2 linked regions of the Homo sapiens genome follow. The protein of the gene in region 1 binds, or shares a complex with, the protein of each later gene. Each region holds a gene or a part of one and is shown in the gene's direction. Other genes may lie near its edges. The genes, in order: DNAJB13 and LRRC23.

Region 1 (11,751 bases):
GGCTGTTTAAAGGTTTTTAGTACTGTAATTACAGCCATAAGTTCAGCCCTTTGAGCAGAAGCAAAGTCAGTTTGAACAACTTGTTGTTGAGGTCCTACAAATGAGGCCTTTCCATTACTAGATCCATCAGTAAAAACAGTATTGGCCCCTTCAATAGGGGTCTTTTGAGTAGTGGAGGGTAATATCCATGATGTCAATTTTAGAAATTGGAATATTTTGGATTTAGGATAATGATTATCAAGTATACCAATAAAACCAGCTAAATTAACTTGCCATTTCTGGGAGTTAACATAAGCTTGCTGAATTTGTTGTTTATTTAAAGGAACTATAATTTGATTTGGATCATATCCCATTAATTTTGTTGTATACAGCCTTGCTTGACCTATCAGTACAGCAATTTGATCTAAGTACAGAGTAAGTGTTCTAGTTGTATTGTGAGGTAGAAAAAGCCACTCAGCTAGATCATCCTGTTGAACAGTAACACCTGTAGTTGAATGTTTAGTAGGAAAAATGAAAAACTGTAATGGCTGTAGTAGATCAATTCAAGTCACTTGTGCCTGATGAATTTTTTCTTCAATTAATTGAAGTTCTTACAATGCTTCTTTGGATAGAGAGCATTTGCTGTTAAGATCAGAATCACCTCATAAGTTAGAAAAGAGGTGAGACATAGCATAAGTAGGAATGCCTAAAGTGGGAATAATTTTTGAAAATCATTTAGAGGTTTTTTTTTTTTTTTTTTTTTTTTTTGAGACAGAGTCTCGCTCTGTCACCCAGGCTGGAGTGCGGTGGTGCAATCTCGGCTCACTGCAAGCTCCGCCTCCTGGGTTCATGCCATTCTCCTGCCTCAGCCTCCCTAGTAGCTGGGACTACAGGTGCCTGCCACCACGCCTGGCTAATTTTTTGTATTTTTAGTAGAGACAGGGTTTCACCGTGTTAGCCAGGATGGTCTCCATCTCCTGACCTTGTGATCCACCCACCTCAGCCTCCCAAAGTGCTGGGATTACAGGCGTGAGCCACCACGCCCGGCCTCATTTAGAGTTTTTAAATTATCTCTTTGAATTTGAACCTTTTGAGGCTTAATAGTACTTTGTTTTACTTTCCTTCCTAAATATTGAAATAGAGTGGAAGTTTGGATTTTATCGGGGGCTGTGATTAATCCTGCAGCAGTTACAGCCTTTTCTGTTTGTAGCATAGTATTCATTCCTCCCTAGTTTCAGCTGCACATAAGATATTATCCATGTAACGGATGATATAACATTTTTTAAACTGTTTTCTAACTGGCATAAAAACTTTAACAACATAAGTTGGACAAATAGTTGGGCTATTTAACATGCCTTGTGGAAATACGTTCCAATAGTATCTATCTGCTGATTCTTTGTTATTTATGACGGGAACAGTAAAAGCAAATTTTTCATAATCTTGGGTCGCTAAAGGAATGGTAAAAAAGCAACCTTTTAAATCTATCACTATGAGAGGCCAGTATTTAGGAATCGTAGTTGGGGAGGGCAGCCCTGGTTGCAGCGCGCCCATGAGTTGAATTACAGCATTAACGGCCCTCAAGTCTGTTAACATTTTCCATTTCCCTGATTTTTTCTTAATGACAAACATAGGAGAATTCCAAGAAGAGAAAGTAGGCTCTATGTGTCCCTTTTGCAATTGTTCTTGCACCAATTCTTTTAAAGCCTCCAGTTTTTCCCGTTTCAGTGGCCATTGCTCCACCCAAACCAGTTTGGCAGTTAGCCAAACAAGAGGAATGGGTGCCAGAGGCTCGACAATGGCCGCTCCTAAAAATGATACCCCGATCCAGTTTGCTCTGTTTAACCTTTTAGTTCTAAAGGTTCTGGTTGTCCATTTTCATTTTTTGCTAGTCCTTTCCCCGGGAGATATCCCATTTTTTTCATCATTTGTTTATTGTTATTACTATATTGATCCATAGGAATAGATATTTCAGCACCCCGTTGTTGGAATAAGTCCCTTCCTGACCATCTGGCCCTTGACATGGCAGAATTAAGGAACTTTGAAACACTTCTGAGGCAGCTCCTACTCCAACAATACTAAGGATGCCTTTTGTTTGGGCCAATGCTGGCACCATTGATCTAAAGCAATAATAGAAACATCATCTCCAGTATCTACTAGTCCCTCAAAGTCTTTACCTCGAATCGTTACTGTACAAATAGGTCTTTTGTCAGACACTTGATTAACCCAATAGACAGCCTTTCCTGCTGGATTTGTACTACCAAAGCCTCCCATTCCTTTTACTATGCTGCTTCCCAGTTTTGTATAAGGTAGAAGTAACAACTGAGCAATTCTTTCTCCTGGGGAAGCAGACCATGGAGTTGAGGAACTGATAACTAGTTGAATTTCTCCGGTATAATCAGAATCAATTATTCCTGTATGTACAGTGGCACCTCTTAAATTTAAACTAGCCCTTCCAAGCAATAGACCAGCTGATCCTGAGGGTAAAGGGCCCCTAACTCCCGTGGGGACCTTCTTTGGTGGCTCCCCAGGAAGTAGGGAGACAGGACTTGTGCTGCAGAGGTCTACGGCAGCACCGCCTGCTGTGGCGGGGGACAATTGTACGTTTGTAAGGGCACTGGCTGTGCCAGATACGCCTCGGTTTGTTGAGGGGCCCAAAAGAGAGTTTGTCCATCTTTGCTAAATTTAGAATGACACTGATTTGCCCAGTGATTTCCCTTTTTACATCGGGGGCAGATACCGGAACTTTTTTTGCTGCTTACTGGTAGTAACCTTTGCCTGTTGATTTCCTTTTTTACATTCCTTTTTTGTGTGTCCAAATTGCCCACAATTAAAACAAGAACCCGAGAAACGAGGCATATTTTTTCCGGCTTTTAATCCAGCCATAGCCTGAGCTAAAAGAGTAGCCTCATGTAAGTTACCCCCAATGCCATCACAAGCCTTAATATACTCAGCCAAATGAGGCTTCCCTCTCCTAGGTCGAATAGCAGTTTGACATTCTGCATTGGCATTATCGTATGCAAGAAGCTTTATTACAACATCTTGAGGTTGTTTTGTCAGTTATGGCTTTATACACAGCCTCCTGGAGCCGAGCAATAAAATCAGTATATGGTTCCTTGTCAGACAGAACTGAAAGATGGATATTTTTCCTCTATAACATTTATTCTTTCCCATGCCCTTAAGCATACAGAGCATAACTGAGCAATGGCAACATCCTCCATTAATGCTTGATTGTCTAATCGACCCCTGTTAGGGCTGACCCCCATTAACTGTTCAGAGGACACAGGCACAGGCGGCTGTGCCTGTGTGTTTTCTCTTGCCTGAGTTTGAGCTTCATTAGCCCACCAAGTTTTAAATTGCAAGTACTGAGACAGAGTGAGAACAGATTTTGTTAAAGTATCCCAATCATATGGTACTAACCTATTATCAAGAGCCACATTTTTTAGTAAAGTTCACACAAAAGGAGAATTTGGCCCATATTGACTAATGGCTTGCTTGAATTCTTTTAATAACTTAAAAGGAAAAGTGGCCCAATTAGCTGTATTCTGTCCTCCTTGTTGGGTTATAGTAACTGGAAATTGCCATGCTTCAAGGTGTCCTTCAGCTCTAGCCTTCTGAATAGAATTTTGTATAGCACCACCAGTTGCTTCAGATTTTAATGTTGTCACTACAGGAGCAGTAATTTTTACAGCTGCTTCACTTTCTCACCCATTGTGGGAGAGGGAGGAGGTGGCCATTCACTTAATTCAGCAGGCGGAGCTGATGGACCAGTAAAATATGTCTTTTTCAGCTTTCCTTTCTTTTCTATGATTTCCTCCGGCTCCTGTGCCTCGCGTTCAGAATCTGATGTTAGTTTCTTACACTCATCCTCCTCTTCTTCATCTGAATCTGCCTCATCATCTGTTTGAAATGGCTCAGGAGCTGCCTTTATTAACGCCCACACTGACCAAACAGAAACTGGAATTTTGGCTCCATCTTTATATGCCTTTTTAAAATCTCTGCCAGTTCTTTCCCATTCATCCAACTCCATAGTCCCTTGTTCCGGAAGCCATGGGCAGAACTGCTCTACTGTGCTGAAAAGTGTTAATAGACTTTGAGTACTAACTTTCACTCCCCCTCTCCGTAATAAATGCCTTAAGAAATTTAAATAAGCAGAATATTTGCTTTCATTCTGTCCCATTGTTACCCTGGTTCTTCCAAGCGTCCAGCTTACCTGCCGAGCTTCTTTCAGTCATCCTCTGGTGTCCTCTGACAATTGTCCTCTGCTTCCGCATGCTCTAGCGTTCCTTCACAGGGGTTTTCGTTGCCCCACATTGGGTGCCAGAAATGTTGGAGTGATCAGACCCAACACCAGGCTGTGGGGGCTACAAAGTCTGGCAGAGTCGAAGGAATGAGACAAGACAAGAATGCATAAAGTGGGTCCAGGGGGCCAACACCAGTATGGCAGCTGCGAAGGCCCTGAGCTCTGGGAGCCCACGCTCTTTATTGGTGATCAAACAGAAGCAGGTGGTGAGGACGTGAGGACATGGGGTTAGAAAGGAAGCGGTGCATCAAGCGTTTGACCTATAGCTGTGGCAGTTTAGCATTTTCTTTTAAGCATATGGAGTATGCTCTGCTACTCGAGATAATGGAGAACGTGTTTTTCTATCTCAAGATAACAATCAATTTACAAACCTGGGACAGCAAGAAGCAAGGAGCCAGCAAGTCTGGACACATTCCAGAGGCCACAAGGGGTTTTATTCCCTGAGCCCTGGATTGCATCCAAGCCACGAGGGGTTTTATGCCCTGGGCTTAGATTGTGGTGTGGCAGGGCAGCCTTCCACCCTTTGGCACAGAGCTTGGTGTTCCAAAGGCCACGAGGGGTTTTAGACCCTGGACCCAGGACATGTTCCAAGACTCTCTTACGTTATGTCAGACAAGCAAGACTTGCCTCAGCTCTTCTAGCAACACATTGCCCCAGTGATAGACCAATGGACAGTAGTTCCAGACACCAACCCATGCATATGTGGAAATTTCATATCTAACACAGCAGTCAGTACAGATCGGTGGGAAGACAATGGACAATTAAATAAATGATCTGAGCAGTTGGATATCTTTCAGAAAAGATACTATCTTGCTCCATATACAAAAAAATAAACTCTAGGTGTGTTAAATATTTAAATGTGAAATGGACTTTCGGAAGATCATATAGGTGAAGATCTTTATGCCCTCACATAAGGAAATATTTCTTAAACTAGACACACACAAAACGTGTAACCAGAAAGGAAAAGATTGATACATTTGACTTTTAAAAAGGTGAAAAAAGCTTCAAGTTGAAGAAAGGATTCGTATTTCATATTATCAACAAAGAGTTTGTTTTCAAAAAACATAAAAAGCCACTAGTCAGTTTTTTTTTTTTTTTTTTTTTTTGAGACGGAGTTTCGTTCTTGTTGCCCAGGCTGGAGTGAAGTGGCACAATCTCTGCTCACCGCAACCTCTGCCTCCCAGGTTCAAGCTATTCTTCTGCCTCAGCCTCCCAAGTAGCTGGGATTACAGGCATGCGCCACCATGTCCAGCTAATTTTGTATTTTTAGTAGAGATGGGGTTTCTCCATGTTGGTCAGGCTGGTCTTGTACTCCTGACCTCAGGTGATCCATCCACCTCGGCCTCCCCAAGTGCTGGGATTACAGGCATGAGCCACTATGCCCGGCCTGTCAGTTTGTAAAAAGGATAGTCAAATAGAAAAAAATGGGCAAAAACATAAATAGGTGTTTCACAATGAGGAAAAACAAATGGCCAATAAGTATGAAAAGATACTCAACCAAGAAATGCAAATTAAAATCCACAATGAGATGCCACTTTATGCCTACTATATTGGCAAACGTTTTAAAACTTGACATCAAGAGTTGGTGAGGGCCAGGAGTGTTGGCTCATGTCCATAATCCCAGCACTTTGGGAAGCTGAGATGGAAGGATCACTTGAGCCCATGAGTTCAAGACCTGTTTGCACAATATGGCAAGACCTCGTCTCTACAAAAAATTTAAAAATTAGCCTGATGTGGTGGTGTGTGCCTGGGTTTCCAGCTACTTGCGAGGCTGAGGCAGGAGGATTGCTTAAGCCCAGGAAGTCGAGGCTGCAGGAGGTTGAGCCATGATCGCACCACTGCACTCCAGCCTGGGCAATAGAGGGAGACCCTGTCTTAAAAAAAAAAAAGAGTTGGTAAGGATATGAAGCAAAAGAAACTGATACACTGCTGTTGCCAGCGTAAATTAGAAAACCACACCAGAAAACTTTGGCATTGCCTTGCAAAGTGGGCGCATATACCCAAATGTTCATCAACAGAGAGTACTATACAGCCTGTGACAATAAGTCACACACACAAATACCTACCATTTGTATAAATGATACCATTTATATAAAGTTCAAAAATATGAAAAGGTAAATATGTTGCTGTGGATATTTGCAGTGTGGCACTGGAGCTGGCTTGTACTGGCTTGGGAAGAACTGGCAAATGCCACAAAACAGCACACCACTGGGTACAGGCATATGGAGTAAAGCTCTAAAGAAAAGCAAGAGAATTACAAACAGGTAGGGAGGGGCACATCGGGGCAATATTCCTTCAACAAGGAATGTTCTAATGCTGCTCTTTTTCTTCCTAAGAAGAAAAAACAAATAGAAGTTAGCTGGGTTGAGGCGAGGGTCTGTGGTGGGTGGGGTGGGAGGTTCTGAGCAGAGGTAGCAGCAGAGGTGAATGAGGAGAGGGGATGGCTGGTTTGGGCAGTGGCAGGCACTGCAGTCCATTCTGACAAGCAGTGGGTGCGTGTAGGGCAGTGGTGAGAGCTCAGGTGGAAAGGGAGGCACCAGATCACAGAGGGCCTGTGTGCCATGGTAAGCAGTTTGGAGTTCACTCGAAGTAATGAGGAGTGTGGGCTTTGCAGAACAGAGACAAGGCAGGCAGGCCCGCGAGGAAGTTGTTGTGGTCTTGCTGAAAGATGAATCCAGAGCTGGGCCCTGATTATGAGGAGGAAGAGCAGAGGAGCTGGGCTTGAGAGGTTGTCTAGGAAGCAGAATGGACTGAGCTTGGTGACCAGTTGGATTTGGGATGTGCATGGAAAACAGGGCTCTGCTGTACTCAGAGAGGTGGAGCATAACTCCCTCACTGTAAGGGTGGGCCGCACAGTGACTGCCTTCCAAAGAGTGCAATACAGCAAGTGGGGAAGGAGGGCTGGCGCGGTGGCTCACGCCTGTAATCCCAACACTTTGGGAGGCTGAGGTGGGTGGATCACTTGAGGTCAGGAGTTTGAGACCAGCCTGGCCAACATGGTGAAACCCCGTCTCTAGTAAAAATAACAAAAATTAGCCGGGCATGGTGGCACATGCCTGTAATCTCAGCTACTTGGGAGGCTGAGGCAGGAGAATCGCTGGAACCCGGGAGGCAGAGGTTGCAGTGAGCTGAAATTGTGCCACTGCACTCCAGCCTGGGCGATGGAGTGAGACTCCATCTCAAAAAACAAAAACAAACAAACAAAAAGAAAAACACCAAACAAATTCCAATTGCAGGACATTCTACAAAACACCTGACCATTATTACTTAAACTGTCAAGGTCATCAAAAACATGGAAAGTCTGAGAAACTGTCACAGTCAGGAGGCACCAGAGGAGATGCAACAGCTAAGTGTAACGTGGCATCCTGGATGGGGTCCGGAACAGAAATAAGATATTAGGTTAAAACAACTAGTAAATCTGAATAAAATGTGGATTTTAGTTAATAATAATGTATCAATATTGGTCATTATTTGTGACAAATGTACCATACTAATGTAAGATGTTAATAATAGGGGAATGTGAATGCAGTGGCTCACACCTGTAATCCCAGCACTTTGGGAGGCCAAGCCGAGCCCAAGAGTTCAAGACCAGTCTGGGCAACATGGTGAAACCCCATCTCTACAAAACATACAAAAATTAGCCAGGCATGGTAGTGCACGCCTGTGTCTCAGCTACTTGGAAGGCTGAGGTGGAAGAATCCCTTGAGCCTGGGAGGTTGAGACTGCAGTGAGGTGTGATCCTGCCACTGCCCACCAGCCTGGGTGACAGAGTGAAGACCCTGTCTCAAAAACATGATAATGATAATAATAATAATAAAATAGGAGAATGTGGATGTGAGGTATATGGGAACTCTCTGTACTGTCTTCTCAACTTTTCTAAACTCTAAAACTGTTCTAAAATAAATGTATTTTTAAAAAATTAGCCAAATGCATTTCTTCTAAAACCTTTTTATTAAAACTAATTACTGCTCTCTTTAAAAACAAAAACAAAATAAAACAGAGCCCTGTGAGTCTTCAATTTCCGAGTTGAGTGACCTTTCACAGGGTCGCAGAATCAGCCCCAGCTCTCCCCCAGTCCTTTCACTGACTCCTCTCTGTGGCAGAGCTGAAATTTGTTTAGGGAAGTGGGACTACAACTCCCAGAGTGCACCTGTGCGGTTGTCAGGAGCAACCAAGGAAGCCAACTAACAGCCTTGCTAGAGTCTGAGGACTATCCAGGGCCTGACTGCCAGCTAGCCAGCCATGGGCCAGGATTATTACTCTGTGCTCGGGATCACTCGCAATTCAGAGGATGCCCAGATCAAGCAGGCGTAAGTTGGGGTGGGAGCCAGGCCTTAGGGGTGTGCTGGGGCAGGCCCTGCCCTCTTCTCTTCCAAAACGAGCTTTCCTGCACAGCTTAGCGCAGACAAGGTAAACCTTGTTCCTCCTTTCACTTCTTGCATACCTGTATCCTGGCTTTGGTCTGGGTCAGGGCCCAGGTTGGAAATTTGAACTCTTTAGTTCCTCAATCTGCTCCCAACCCATCTCCCTTTATGCTCCATGCCCTATATCCTCTCCTGGGTGCCTTGCTTTTCCCAGCAATGAAGTGGGGACAAAGGAGCCATTTGAACTTTATCTTGAATATTATGGAGAACCAGAGGCTTGTGAACAAGGGAGTGGCCAGGCCAGATGGATGTTTTAAATTCAATTCTGGCCATGATGGAGGTTTTCAGCATTGACTAAACTACATTCCTGAATACTTCCATCGGATCTTAAGGACGTTCTGGCTCGTTCCTAAGAAAGCCTACAACAGGAGTCAGTACATTTTTCTGAAAACATGTTTTTGTTTTTTGTTTTGAGACGGAGTCTTGGTCTTGTTGCCCAGGCTGGAGTGCAATGGCGTGATCTCGGCTCACCGCAACCTCCACCTCCTGGGTTCAAGCGATTCTTCTGCCTCAGCTTCCCAAGTAGCTGGGATTACAGGCATGCACCACCATGCCCAGCTAATTTTGTATTTTTAGTAGAGATGGGGTTTCTCCTTTTTGGTCAGGCTGGTCTCAAATTCCCGACCTCTGGTGATCCACCCGCCTCAGCCTTCCCAAGTGCTGGGATTATAGGTGTGAGTCACCGCACCTGGCCAAAAACATGTTTTTTTTTTTAACAAATATTTATTGAGCGTCTACCACAAGGGTTGAGAGGGTACTTCACTCCTGCTGCAGTGGTAGCAGCTGGAGATAAATGTCGGAATCCGACATCGACACTCCCTTACCTCATGCAGCTAGATTTTGTTGCTGAATAGATGTTGAATAAGTCACCACAACTGTGATGAGTGTTACAGAAGAGGAAGTATGGGGGGCTGTGGAAGTTATCTTGGAAGGAGAGAGACCCTTTAGGAGGCTGTTCGTGGTAATCAAGGCAAAAGATGAGGCCAGAGAAAGGGGAGGGAATGGACTTGGTAATTAAGTGGATCACTGGAGGGTGAAGAAAAGAGGAGTCCAGGATAACTCAATCAATTAAGTTAGGCAGTGACAATAGGTGTATGTTTTGAGTGTGTAGGTGCTGTTCTGAGAACTTTCCATCACTGTTTAACCCTCACAACAGCCCTGAGAATTAAGTGCCATTATTATCCCACAAGTGCACTAGTAAATGGTGGAGCCAGTGTTCAGATATCAGGCCTCCCAGAGTTGCCAGTCATGGGCCTATTCCTGGGCCAGGTCCTGTAGGGGATCAGTGGCATAAGTGGAGAGTCTGCGGTGTTGGAGAAAAAAGACACAAACTCATGAAAGGATCTGAGAACAATTCAGGACAGTGTATGATGTCACCCACTCTTCGGAGCATCTCATTGACCAGAAGGACCCATCCAGGGAAAGGTAATCAGGAGGAAGGGCAGTGGGCGTGCAGAAAGATAAGCACAGCTTAAGCACTGGAAAGGGCTGGATCAGAATCCAGATTCACTTACCTGCTAGCTGCGTGACCTGGGCAAATTACTTAACCTCTTTGAGCCGAAGTTTTCCCATGTCTAAAAATCATCATCATAATAAAGGTTGCTGTGAGATTGAAATAGGATTAGATGAGATAATGCATGTGTCCAGCAATCATTTGCATGTGAAACCATGTCATATAAAGAGTGATTAAGGCCTGGCATGGTGTTTCATGCCTGTAATCTGAGCACTTTAGGAGGCCAAAGCAGGAGGATCCCTTGGGCCCAGGAGTTTGAGAGGGCAGCCTGGGCATCATAGGGAGACCCTGTCTCTACAGAAAATTTAAAAATTAGCTGGGCATGATGGCACACACCTGTAGTCCCAGCTACTTGGGAGGCTGAGGTGGGAGGATTGCTTGAGCCCAGAAGGTAGAGGCTGCATTGAGCTATGATTGCACCACTGCACTCCAGTCTGGGCAACAGAGCAACACCTGTCTCAAAAAAATAAAAATGGCTGGGCCGGGCACCGTGGCTCATGCCTGTAATCCCAGCACTTTGGGAGGCCGAGGTAGGCGGATCACGAGGTCAGGAGATCGAGACTGTAGCAGGACGAGCCGCAGAAAAAACCTCTCAGACACCGAGTTGTAGAAGGAAGAGCTTTATTCAGCTGGGAGCATCGGCCAGCTACTGCCTTAAAATCCGAGCTCCCCGAGTGTACAATTTCTGTCCCTTTTAAGGGCTCACAACACTAAAGATTTCACATGAAAGGGTCGTGATTGATTTGAGCAAACAAGGGGTACGTGACGGGTTTCATGCACTGGTAGTCAGAGAGAAACAGAACAGGGCAGGGAGTTTCACAATGTTCTTCTATACAATGTCTGGAATCTATGAATAACATCGGTTTCTAAATTATGAGTTGATTTTTAACTACTGGGTTTAGGCCAGGCAGGCCCAGGCCTGGTTTCAGGCCTGGCGCTGGGCTGCCTGTCTTTGGTTTTACTTCCTTGTTGCTTTTTTTTAAAACAGGTACTGAGTATAAAACAATATGAGATGGTCGCTCTCTTCCCTCAAGACCATCCTGGCTAACACACTGAAACCCCGTCTCTACTAAAAAATACAAAAAATTAGCCGGGCACCTGTAGTCCCAGCTACTCGGGAGGCTGAGGCAGGAGAATGGCGTGAACCCGGGAGGTGGAGCTTACAGTGAGCGAGATTGCGCCACTGCACTCCAGCCTGGGCGACAGAGCGAGACTCTGTCTCAAAAATAATAATAAAATAATAATAATAATAATAATAATAATAATAATAATAATAATGGCTGGACACAGTGGCTCACACCTGTAATCCTAGCACTTTGGGAGGCTGAGGCAGGTGGACCACTTGAGGTCAGGAGTTTGAGACCAGCCTGGCCAACTTGGTGAAACCACTTCTCTATTAAAAATACAAAAAATTAGCCAGGTGTAGTGGCGCATGCCTGTAATCCCAGCTACTGGGGAGGCTGAGACAGGAGAATTGCTTGAACCCAGGAGGCAGAGGTTGCAGTGAGCCGAGATCGTGCCATTGCACTCCAGCC
Region 2 (11,475 bases), on another chromosome or scaffold:
TATTATCAAGACCATAGTTGGTTCCAGATGCTGTGGAGATACACAGCCACCTAGCAGGGCTGATAATATATAATGTGTGGATAATACAGAGATAATTTACCTTGATACAGGTAGTAGCAAAATGGACCATAATTGAGGTACAAACATCAGTCTGTGGAAATGTTTTAGGAAAACCCTCCTCTCAGACTGGGTTTTTCTTCAGCTCTTACACTACCACCACAACAATCATCAACATACGACTTCCGGGACCAAAGGTGTGGGGGTTTCTCCCCATACACCAAGTAGTAGACACCAGCTGGGTGATCTCTAATTCGATTCACTGTCTACCTGGGGATGGCATCAAATCCCACAGATTGAGGGCTCGGTTCCCAAGAGTGACCCCTACACCGCCCACATACACCAGTTGCAAGTCCAAGCCTCCAGAACTTCTGACACACCAGCTTCAACATGAAGCTGGTTCCCATGACCTCTTCTCTGGATTTAATTAATTTTCTAGAGTGGTTTTTATTAGTTTATTGCAAGGGCAAAGGATACAGATGAAGAGATGCTTAGGGCGAAGTATGGGGATATGGGTGCAGTGCTCCATGCCCTTCCCAGATGCATCACCCTCCAAAAGCTTTCACGTGTTCAGCTACCCAGAAGCTCTCTGGACCCAGTCCTCTTGGCTTTTCATGGAAGCTTCATGATCTTAGTATTCCTTCCCCCAGGAAACTGGGGAGGCTGTCGCTGGGGAGGGTCTTAAGAACCACAATCAGGCCGGGCGCGGTGGCTCATGTCTGTAATCCCAGCACTTTGGGAGGCTGAGGCGGGCGGATCACCTGAGGTCCGGAGTTCGAAACCAGCCTGGCCAACATGGCGAAACTCTGTCTCTACTAAAAATACAAAAATTAGCCCAGTGTGCTGACATGCGCCTGTAATCCCAGCTACTAGGGAGGCTGAGGCAGCAGAATGGCTTGAACCCAGAAGGCAGAGTTTGCAGTGAGCTGAGATCACGCCACTGCAATCCAGCCTGGGAGACAGAGCAAGACTCCATCTCAAAAAAAAAAAAAAAAAAAAAAAACCAAAGAAAAACACGGTGAAACCCCGTCTCTACTAAAAATACAAAAAAAAAAAATTAGCTGCGTGTGGTGGCAGGCACCTGTAGTCCCAGCTACTCGGGAGGCTGAGGCAGGAGAATGGCGTGAACCCAGGAGGCGGGGCTTGCAGTGAGCCGAGATTGCGCCACTGCACTCCAGCCTGGGCAACAGAGCTAGACTCTGTTTCAAAAAAAAAAAAAGAAAGAATCACAGTCAGAAAGAGGGAGTGGGGGGAAAGATTAGCGCTTTCTCTTGGAGCAGGTGAAAAGACGGCTGGAGAAGTTCCTGAGACCTGCCCCTGAGGCCCAGCACACCCAACTTTATAACAAAAGACTGCAAGAAGGGCTATTATGGGGGTTATAAGCTAGGGACTGTGGATGAAAACCGATATATATATTATATATTATATAATTATATATTATATATAAATATATATTATATATTATATAATTATATATTATATATAATATATAATTACATATAATATATAATATATAATTATATATTATATATTATATATTATATATAAAATATATAATATATAATTATATATTATATATAATATATAATTATATATAATATATATAATTAGATATAATATATAATTATATATTATATATAATTATATATAATATATTATATATAATTATATATAATACATAAATATATATAATAGTATATATTATATATAATATATATAATATATAAATATATATAATAGTATATTATATATAATATATTTTATATAATATATAAATATTATATATAATAGTATATTATATATAATATATAAATATTATATATAATAGTATATAATATATAATATATAATATATATTTTATATATTATATAATATATTATATATTATATATATAATAACTCCACAGGAAGCCACTGAAATATTTAGTCTTTTAGACTCTTAAGCTTCGTTATTCTGGGATGGTGCTGATGCCAATCCTCAGTGGTGGCCTGGGGGCTCCTGGGCCGGGTAGGGGTGGGTTGAAGCATCTCCTCCATCCCAAGTGGCTTTGATGGGGCGAATGGTAGAGGGTTACTGCTGACCTTTCTCTGGGATGGCAGCTTCTCCTGAACTTCTTTACTTTCTATACTGATCTCTACTCACCCCCACTCCTTTCTTCCACTCCTCCCTCTCTACCTCTTGGATTTCCTCTTTTGCTTTATCTCATTCTGACTTCTCTTTCTTCCCTATCCCTGCTCCCTCTCAATCAATCCACTGTGCCCTGGGGGTCTAGGCCCAAAACATGCTGAAGAAGGTGGAAGGCTTGGAGGATCTGAGCAATCTCACCACCTTGCATCTTCGAGACAACCAGATTGACACCCTGAGTGGCTTCTCCAGAGAAATGAAATCATTGCAGTACCTCAACCTGAGGTATGCACCCTCTCCAAGCCCCACCTTGCCCCTACCCCTGACCAGGTGCAGCTTTTGAGTCTGTGTTCTTCCCTGGCCCAATCCCCCAGTCCTAGCCCACAGCTGGATTCTCAAGGAAAGCCCGGCTTTCCTTCCTTTCTTCTGCACTGAGTTGCAACACTAAATCCCTTATAGCTTGTGACCCCTGAATTTTTATTCATTCAATCCACAATTATTGAGAATGTGCTATGTGCCAGGCCTTGTGCTGTGTTTTGGGGACATTTAAAGCAATCAGAGGCTGGGCATGGTGGTTCATGCCTGTACTCCCAGCACTTTAGGAGGAAGGATCACTTGAGGCCAGGAGTTCAGGACCAGCCTGGGCAACCTAGTGAGACCATGTTTCTACAGAAGTGAAAATAATGGCCCGGCATGGTGGCTCACACCTGTAGTTCTAGCACTTTGGGAAGCCGAAGTGGGCAGATCGTTGGAGCCTAGGAGTTCAAGACCAGTCTGGGCAACATGGCAAAATCCCATCTCTACCAAAAATACAAAAATTAGCCAGGCATGGTGACAGGCACCTGTAATCCCAGCTACTCAGGAGACTTAGGCGGGAGGATCGCTGGAGCCTCGAGGTGGAGTTTGCAGTGAGCTGAGATAAAGCCGCTGCACTCCAGCCTGGGTGACAGAGCCAGACCCTGCCTCAAAAACAAAACAAAAATAAAATATTAAATAAAAATTAAAATATTAAATTAAAAATAAAAATTAACTGAGCCTGGTGGTGCACACCTGTGGTTTCAGCTACTCAGGAGGCTGAGGTTGGAGGATCACTTGAGCCCAGGAGTTCAAGGTTGCAGTGAGCCATGATTGTGCCACTGCACTCCAGCCTGGGTGACAGAGTGAGCTGTCTCTAAAAGAAAGAAAGGAATCAGAGGTGATTCCTGTTCCTAAGGGGCTCACAGTCTGGCTCCAACTCTTTTTTCCTCACCCTATCCTATATAAGTTTCCACTGCCCTTCTCCATTTCCTCGGTCCCAATTCACCTTCCCATTTCCTGCCTCTCTTCTCCTGAGCCCCACCTGTAAGGGATGACCTTTTTACTGATTAAAAAAACACAAGATGTGCTCAGATTTGAGGAGAGAAGGACATTTGTAAGAAAATCTTTTGGTAGAAAGGCACTGAAGATCAGCAACTCTTGTCGGATGGAGGACTTTATGTGTGTTTATTTCAGCAAACATGTAAGGAAACTGCCTCTTTCCTTAGTCAACAAGACCAGATTCTTGAGCTGGTAATGGAAAGAGCATCTCCAAGTAGGGAGAGGTGGTTGCATCTGGAAGCCCCAACTCTCATCCTGACCCCCTGGGCATTCTCTTATTCATGAACTCTGCCACACGGATCTGGTGGGGTGTGTATCTGTGCCATCTTCCTGTTAATGATCTAGACAGGCATGATGGACCCTTCCTGAGTGGCTATTAAATGGGGATGTTTTGAGAGTAAGTCGGGTGTGTGTGTGGAGGGGGGTGAGGGTGTCTCAATGATTGGCAGGTGCCTCTGGGGCCAGAGATGCTAAGCATCCAACAATGTATGGCAGAGTCCAGTACAAAGTTCCTGTAGCCCTCCTGGTGAGAAACACTGCATGAGGCTCAGCACGACCATGAGATCAGGCTGAAACACTTAAATAGATTTCATAAAAGCTTAAAGCCAGAACATGAAAATAAATAAAATTCCAGGCATGGTGGCTCACGCCTGTAATCCCAGCACTTTGGGGGGGCCAAGGCAAGAGGACTGCTTGAGGCCAGGCGTTCAAGACAAACCTGGGCAACATAGTGAGACCCAGTCTCTACAAAAAATTTAAACATTAGCCAGGTGTGGTGGCACATGCCTGGAGGTACTTAGGAAGCTAAGGTGAGAGGATCACTTGAGCCCAGGAATTCAAGGCTGCAGTGAGCTATGATCATGCCACTGCACCCCCAACCGGGGTGACATAGTGAGACCCTGTCTCAATAAAAATAAAATAAAAACAGAGTATCATATAATGAGGCACATTAGGAGATGAAGTTTATTCTTCAGGTTGGGAGGCTCCAACCCATCCATAGCCTTAGGTTCTCTTTGTGGAGAGCACGAACCGAGCATCCACCACCCTAAACTCCAGCTTAGATCCCAGTTCCTTGTCCACTGACCTAGGTCCTACAGGGTGGAGTGCAGTGGCTCGATCTCGGCTCACTGTAATCTCAAACTCCTGGGGTCAAGCAATCCCTCCTCCTCAGCTAAGTAGCAAGGACTACAGGTGTATGCCATCACGCCCAGCTAATTTTTTTATTTTTAGCTTTTGTACAGATGGGGTCTCGCTATGTTGCCCAGGCTGGGTCCTACCTTCTACCCTCCATTTAGGTGTGATCACAGAAAATGTCTCTCCCTGTGAGGAAAATTTGCCCTCTCCTCCCCAGCTACAAGACAGGGTTGTGGCCTAGCTTTGCTGCACCAAAAGAACACATGAATGTATTACAGAGTAGAATATGGCACTTAGGGATTCCTTGAAGGGCAGAAGCAGGACCAGAGCGGGGTCACACAGCACCTCTGCAGTAAATCTGGCAAGGCTTGGCAGGCCAGTCCTCACAGTGTTTCTAGGGACACTGGAACCCCGAGAGTCCCCCAGAGGCCCCATTCCTAGCAACTGGCAACCAAAGCCCATTATTCCTGCATGAACCCCTCCTGACCACACTGGCAGGGGCAACATGGTGGCCAACCTGGGGGAGCTGGCCAAGCTTCGAGACCTGCCCAAGCTGCGAGCGTTGGTGCTGCTTGATAACCCATGCACGGACGAAACCAGCTACCGCCAGGAGGCCCTGGTGCAGATGCCATACCTTGAACGCCTGGACAAGGAATTCTATGAGGAGGAGGAACGGGCTGAGGCTGATGTGATTCGACAGAGGCTGAAGGAAGAAAAGGAGCAGGAGCCTGAGCCCCAGCGTGACCTGGAACCCGAACAGTCATTGATCTAGCAGCAGTTCTAGCCTCTAAAGATAGTAAGGAAGCCTGCAGGGAGGCAGTGGGAGGAGGCCAAGGGCTGGGCAGGTAGGGGAAGAGGCAAGAGGGGAAGCTGCTGCAGAAGGAGGTGGGAGAGGAAAGCATCAGACAAGCAGGACCCTTAAAGAGAGGAGGGTTAGGAGTCAGGGAGAGGAAAAGGGACCCAAGGGGCCTGGGACCAGCTGAGAAAGACTTAGGAGGCCAGAAGAGTAAGTGAAAAGAATTGGGGTGGCAGGCAGAGGAGTTGGTGGGGGGTGGGGCAGCCATACCTGACACAGAGTGAAGTCGGCTAGGAAAGGACAGGTGTGGGTGCATGGTAGGGGCTGCAGGGGAAAGTTGGTGGTGTATGCAGCTGGACCTAGGAGAGAAGCAGGAGAGGAAGATCCAGCACAAAAAATCTGAAGCTAAAAACAGGACACAGAGATGGGGGAAGAAAAGAGGGCAGAGTGAGGCAAAAAGAGACTGAAGAGATGAGGGTGGCCGCCAGGCACTTTAGATAGGGGAGAGGCTTTATTTACCTCTGTTTGTTTTTTTTTTTTTTTTTTTTTTTTTTTTGCGAGGTAGTCTTGCTTAGTCTCCAGGCTGGAGTGCAGTGGCACAATCTCAGCTCACTGCAACTTCCACCTCCTGGGTTCAAGCAATTCTCCTGCCTCAGCCTCCCGAGTAGCTGGGACTACAGGCGCATGCAACCGCGCCTGGCTAATTTTTGTATTTTTAGTAGAAACGGGGTTTCACCACGTTAGCCAGGATGGTCTGGATCTCCTGACCTCGTGATCTGCCCGCCTCCGCCTTCCAAAGTGCTGGGATTACAGGGGTGAGCCACAGCGCCTGGTCCCTATTTACTTCTGTCTTCTACCTCCAGGAGATCAAAGACGCTGGCCTTCAGACCTGATCAGACTCCCAGGGGCAGCCACCACATGTATGACAGAGAACAGAGGATGCCTGTTTTTGCCCCAAAGCTGGAAATTCATCACAACCTGAGGCCCAGGATCTGCTCTGTGCCGGTCCTCTGGGCAGTGTGGGGTGCAGAATGGGGTGCCTAGGCCTGAGCGTTGCCTGGAGCCTAGGCCGGGGGCCGCCCTCGGGCAGGCGTGGGTGAGAGCCAAGACCGCGTGGGCCGCGGGGTGCTGGTAGGAGTGGTTGGAGAGACTTGCGAAGGCGGCTGGGGTGTTCGGATTTCCAATAAAGAAACAGAGTGATGCTCCTGTGTCTGACCGGGTTTGTGAGACATTGAGGCTGTCTTGGGCTTCACTGGCAGTGTGGGCCTTCGTACCCGGGCTACAGGGGTGCGGCTCTGCCTGTTACTGTCGAGTGGGTCGGGCCGTGGGTATGAGCGCTTGTGTGCGCTGGGGCCAGGTCGTGGGTGCCCCCACCCTTCCCCCATCCTCCTCCCTTCCCCACTCCACCCTCGTCGGTCCCCCACCCGCGCTCGTACGTGCGCCTCCGCCGGCAGCTCCTGACTCATCGGGGGCTCCGGGTCACATGCGCCCGCGCGGCCCTATAGGCGCCTCCTCCGCCCGCCGCCCGGGAGCCGCAGCCGCCGCCGCCACTGCCACTCCCGCTCTCTCAGCGCCGCCGTCGCCACCGCCACCGCCACCGCCACTACCACCGTCTGAGTCTGCAGTCCCGAGGTGAAGCCCCCGCCAGGCCCAGAGCCCCTGTGGCCCCCTCCCTTCGCCGCGGCGCCCCTGCCTCCTTTACCCGGTGCCGCTGCGCACCTCTCCGCATCTCTGGCCCGGTGCAGCTGCGCACCTGCTCCGCCGCCCGCGCCCAGGGCGCCTTCCCTCCCTGGCCTTCCCCGCCCGCTGCCTTCGCTTTCTGGCCCTCTGCGCGCCTATCTCTAACTGCGCCTCTCCACCCTTGCCTGCCTCTCTCCCGGTGCTCGCCCTCATCTACGGTTCTATTTGTTTCTAAGTTGGGAGCCTCTCCGGGCGGTGCATTTTTATCCTAGAGCGTCCCTTTTGGTTTGCATTTGGGGAAATGTCTTCTCTCACCGTTCCTCACCTCCCCCAGACTTCCCTTGGACTCCCCTCTCTCCTGCTCTTCCCCACGGCGCCCCTCTCCGTTCGCGCTTCCTCCCCTCTGCTGCACGGGGGAGAGATGGAAGAAGTGGGGATCTGTCGAGGCGCAGAGGGGAGGACAGGCCCAGCTCGCCTCCACTCCCCACCGGCTCTTATCCTCTTCACTTCCCGCTGCAACCCCCAGGGACTGCAGGGCCTTTCTCAGGACCCTCTTCCCCGACACCTGTATTGCATGCGCCTTTCGCGGGAAGAGGAGGGATACACGTTTGGGAGAGAGTGGGACCTTGGGGAAGGGGCAGTGTTCAGGCAGCTGGGGTGTTAAGTTGGGGAGGTATGGGGGCTCTGGAAGAGAGGCCCAGGCAGCCCATCCTCTTCTTGGCTCCCAGGAGAAATGCAAGCCTGGCAGCCATTCCGCTCTGAGGAGATCTGGGGGAACCCCACCGGCTGGCCAAGCTGCAAAGAGGCGCGGGAACCACTGTCGTGCCCCTCCCCTCCTCACTGCAGTGTTCTCCCATCTCATCATTTGATCTTACCCCGCCCCCCACTGCAGTGACCTCCCCTTCCTCACTGCATTGACCTTCTCCTCTTCCCAGGGGGGAGGGGGAATCCCTTCTACAGCCCTAGACTGCAGCCAGCGCCTCCCTACCCACCCCCCACCCACTGCAGTAACCTCTTTCCCATCCCTCCCAGCCTCCCGCCCCGCCCATTGATCTCAGGCTCCACCCCTCTAAGCCTCTTATCTTTCTCCTTCCTTCCCTTCCACCCGAGGAGATCCCAGCCATCATGTCCATAGAGAAGATCTGGGCCCGGGAGATCCTGGACTCCCGCGGGAACCCCACAGTGGAGGTGGATCTCTATACTGCCAAAGGTAATGGGTGTGGCATGGGCCTTCCTACAGCCCTAGCTTTTCCACGGCCAGGCTGGGTTCGGCCAGGGGTTCGGAGGCCTTTTTTGATACCCAGGGGTATGGGGTGCTGGGCCAGGCTCACAAGCCTGGGTTGTGGCGGTTGGATCCTCCTTGTCCGGGGAGCCAGGGTAGGTGGGTCTGTGTTCGAGTTTAGCGTGTGAGGCATGTCCTGCCTCCGTGTGTCTGCCTGTGCACTTGCATGTGTGCAGACGTGTGCTGCAAGCAATTTTCTTTCTGCGGGCTCCCACTTGTGCATGTGGGGCCTCAGATGGGTGGATGAGGAGGCCACTTCTTGTGCATCTGCCTCAGTGTGTGTGTGGGGTGGGGGTGGGGGGATGTTAGGGAGCAGTGTGGGGAGAGAGCTAGATGTGGTAGGCAGGCAGTTTAGAGCCAGAAGGCTGAAGGACTCCCTGGCCCCTGTGTCCTCTTCACTCCCTCTCATTCCATGTTCCTCCTTTAGGTCTTTTCCGGGCTGCAGTGCCCAGTGGAGCCTCTACGGGCATCTATGAGGCCCTGGAGCTGAGGGATGGAGACAAACAGCGTTACTTAGGCAAAGGTGAGGTCCCTTCTCTTTTCCAGACTCTCCCCCACCTCAGCCTTATGCCCCTACCTCACACCAGTCCCCAGTCCTCCTCTAGCATGGCTTCCCCTCCTCCCATTGATCCCTTCCGGCCCCTCCTGGCCCGACCCAGTCCAGCCTCTTCCTTTCCCCAGGTGTCCTGAAGGCAGTGGACCACATCAACTCCACCATCGCGCCAGCCCTCATCAGCTCAGTGAGGCCTGCTCTTTGCTGGGGATAGCAGGGCCAGAGTTCTGGAAGGAATCCCGGAGCAGGGCAGGAGGAAGGGAAGAAAGAAGGCCCACTCTTAGGAATCATGGTTACAAGGGGGAAGGGTGGGGAACAGCTTCCTTAATGCACCCTGCTCCCATGGGAGTTCAGGTCCCCTAATCCAGGTAGGCCCCTGTCACAGGGACCTGGTTGGACCCTGGCCAAATGTGAGCTTGGGTGTGAATGAGGGGACCCTCTGCCTTAGGGCTCAGCCTCCAGCCTGGCCCTGGGTGATGGAGGCTCTGCCCTCAGGGTCTCTCTGTGGTGGAGCAAGAGAAACTGGACAACCTGATGCTGGAGTTGGATGGGACTGAGAACAAATGTGAGCCGGGGCCGGGAGAAAGTGGGGAAGCGTCAGGGTGGGGAGGCGTGGAGCAGATAGAGAGCTGAAGGGCCAGTGCTGTAGTGGCTTCCTCAGGAATGACTGTCAGGGGCATTCTCCTCTCAAAGCCAGAGCAAGGGGAGATGAGTTTAGCTGCAGAGGGAAGGACCGACAGTAGGCAGAAGGAAGACCTTCTTTGCAGCATACAGAGGAGGGGGATGGCCTGAGAGAGTCTGTGGTCTCAGGGATATTTAGAAAGAGGTGTGGCTCTCTGCCGTTTCCAATCTCCTCCTCCCCACCCATTCCTCTCCCTGCTGTTTTCAAGAGAGCATGGATGAGGTGTTGCTGGGGCAGGGGTGGGGAGGGAGGAGGGGGTCTCCTTTACTGGCTCCTTTTGGAGACTACAGATGGAGGCAGGAGCTAGAAAGGAGAAGGGGACATTGTGCTCAGCACCTTCCTCTATAATCTCCTAGCCAAGTTTGGGGCCAATGCCATCCTGGGTGTGTCTCTGGCCGTGTGTAAGGCAGGGGCAGCTGAGCGGGAACTGCCCCTGTATCGCCACATTGCTCAGCTGGCCGGGAACTCAGACCTCATCCTGCCTGTGCCGGTGAGCAATAAGCCAGCCTGCGGCTCTCCCAGGGGCGGGTGGGGGAGGGAGCATGCAACTCATGAGGAATGATGGGAGGAAAGTGAATTGAGGGAGGTAAAGAGGAAGGATGGGGACGTGAGACTTAGTCCGGAAAGCTGGGGGAAGTTTGGGATCTTGGGTTAACACTCCTGGGGCGGGCAGGGAGGGGCTCTTTGACCCTTCTGTCTTTCTGTGGCTCCCCAGGCCTTCAACGTGATCAATGGTGGCTCTCATGCTGGCAACAAGCTGGCCATGCAGGAGTTCATGATCCTCCCAGTGGGAGCTGAGAGCTTTCGGGATGCCATGCGACTAGGTGCAGAGGTCTACCATACACTCAAGGGAGTCATCAAGGACAAATACGGCAAGGATGCCACCAATGTGGGGGATGAAGGTGGCTTTGCCCCCAATATCCTGGAGAACAGTGAAGGTGAGGCCAGGAGCCCCACTCCCAGCTCTAAGTCTTACCCTATTGTGGGACATCAGAAAGGGTGACACAGTTCACCAAGTCCTGAGTAGGCGTGGAGGGTCCTAGGACTCTGCAAACTCCAAAAGGTACCAGTTCTTAGAGTGGATTGCAGAGAGCCTGCCAAATTCACATGCAGACCTAGGGGGACAGTATTTTTTTTTTTTTTTGAGACGGAGTCTTGCTCTGTCACCCAGGCTGGAGTGCAGTGGCTCGATCTCAGCTCACTGCAAGCTCCGCCTCCCGGGTTCACGCCATTCTCCTGCCTCAGCCTCCCGAGTAGCTGGGACTACAGGCGCCCGCCACCACGCCCGGCTAATTTTTTGTATTTTTTAGTAGAGACAGGGTTTCACTGTGGTCTCGAACTCCTGACCTTGTGATCGGCCCGCCTCGGCCTCCCAAAGTGCTGGGATTACAAGCGTGAGCCACCACGCCTGGCCAGGGGACAGTCTTTTACCTGCCTAGCCAGATGTGTTAGCATCTGTTAAGTTGCCACTGGAAGGCCGGGCGCGGTGGCTCACACCTGTAATCCCAGCACTTTGGGAGGCTGAGGCGGGTGGATCACCTGAGGTCAGGAGTTTGAGACCAGCCTGGCCAACAAGGTGAAACCCCGTCTCTACTAAAAATACAAAAATTAGCCGGGCATGGTGGCGTGTGCCTGTAATCACAGATACTAGCGGGGCTGAGGCAGGAGGATCGCTTGTACCCGGGAGGCGGAGGTTGTGGTGAGCCGAGATCATGCCACTGCACTCCAGCCTGGGCAACAGAGCGAGACTCCGTCTCAAAAAAAAAAAAAAAAAAAAAAGTTGTCACTGGAGCCCTTGGGAATACTGGGAG

What was found.
Region 2: DNAJB13 (region 1) and LRRC23 share a complex: the UniProt entries of both Homo sapiens proteins name them as parts of the axonemal radial spoke complex.

The regions. Positions count from the first base shown.
Region 1 is NC_000011.10:73,942,549-73,954,299, forward strand, and holds the start of DNAJB13 (dnaJ homolog subfamily B member 13), read left to right. Parts: upstream 1-8,477; 5' UTR 8,478-8,521; coding exon 8,522-8,589; intron 8,590-8,626; exon of another isoform or gene 8,627-8,689; intron 8,690-9,859; exon of another isoform or gene 9,860-10,128; intron 10,129-11,751. UniProt on the Homo sapiens protein: Functions as part of axonemal radial spoke complexes that play an important part in the motility of sperm and cilia.
Region 2 is NC_000012.12:6,907,561-6,919,035, forward strand, and holds the end of LRRC23 (leucine-rich repeat-containing protein 23), read left to right. Parts: intron 1-2,329; coding exon 2,330-2,466; intron 2,467-5,169; coding exon 5,170-5,443; 3' UTR 5,444-5,467; intron 5,468-6,330; coding exon of another isoform or gene 6,331-6,511; 3' UTR 6,512-6,669; downstream 6,670-11,475. Other genes in the region: ENO2 (gamma-enolase), read left to right, coding at 8,273-8,357, 8,857-8,952, 9,111-9,169, 9,478-9,547, 10,021-10,154, 10,380-10,602. UniProt on the Homo sapiens protein: Essential for sperm motility and male fertility. Plays an important role in the proper assembly of the third radial spoke (RS3) head and the bridge structure between RS2 and RS3 in the sperm flagella.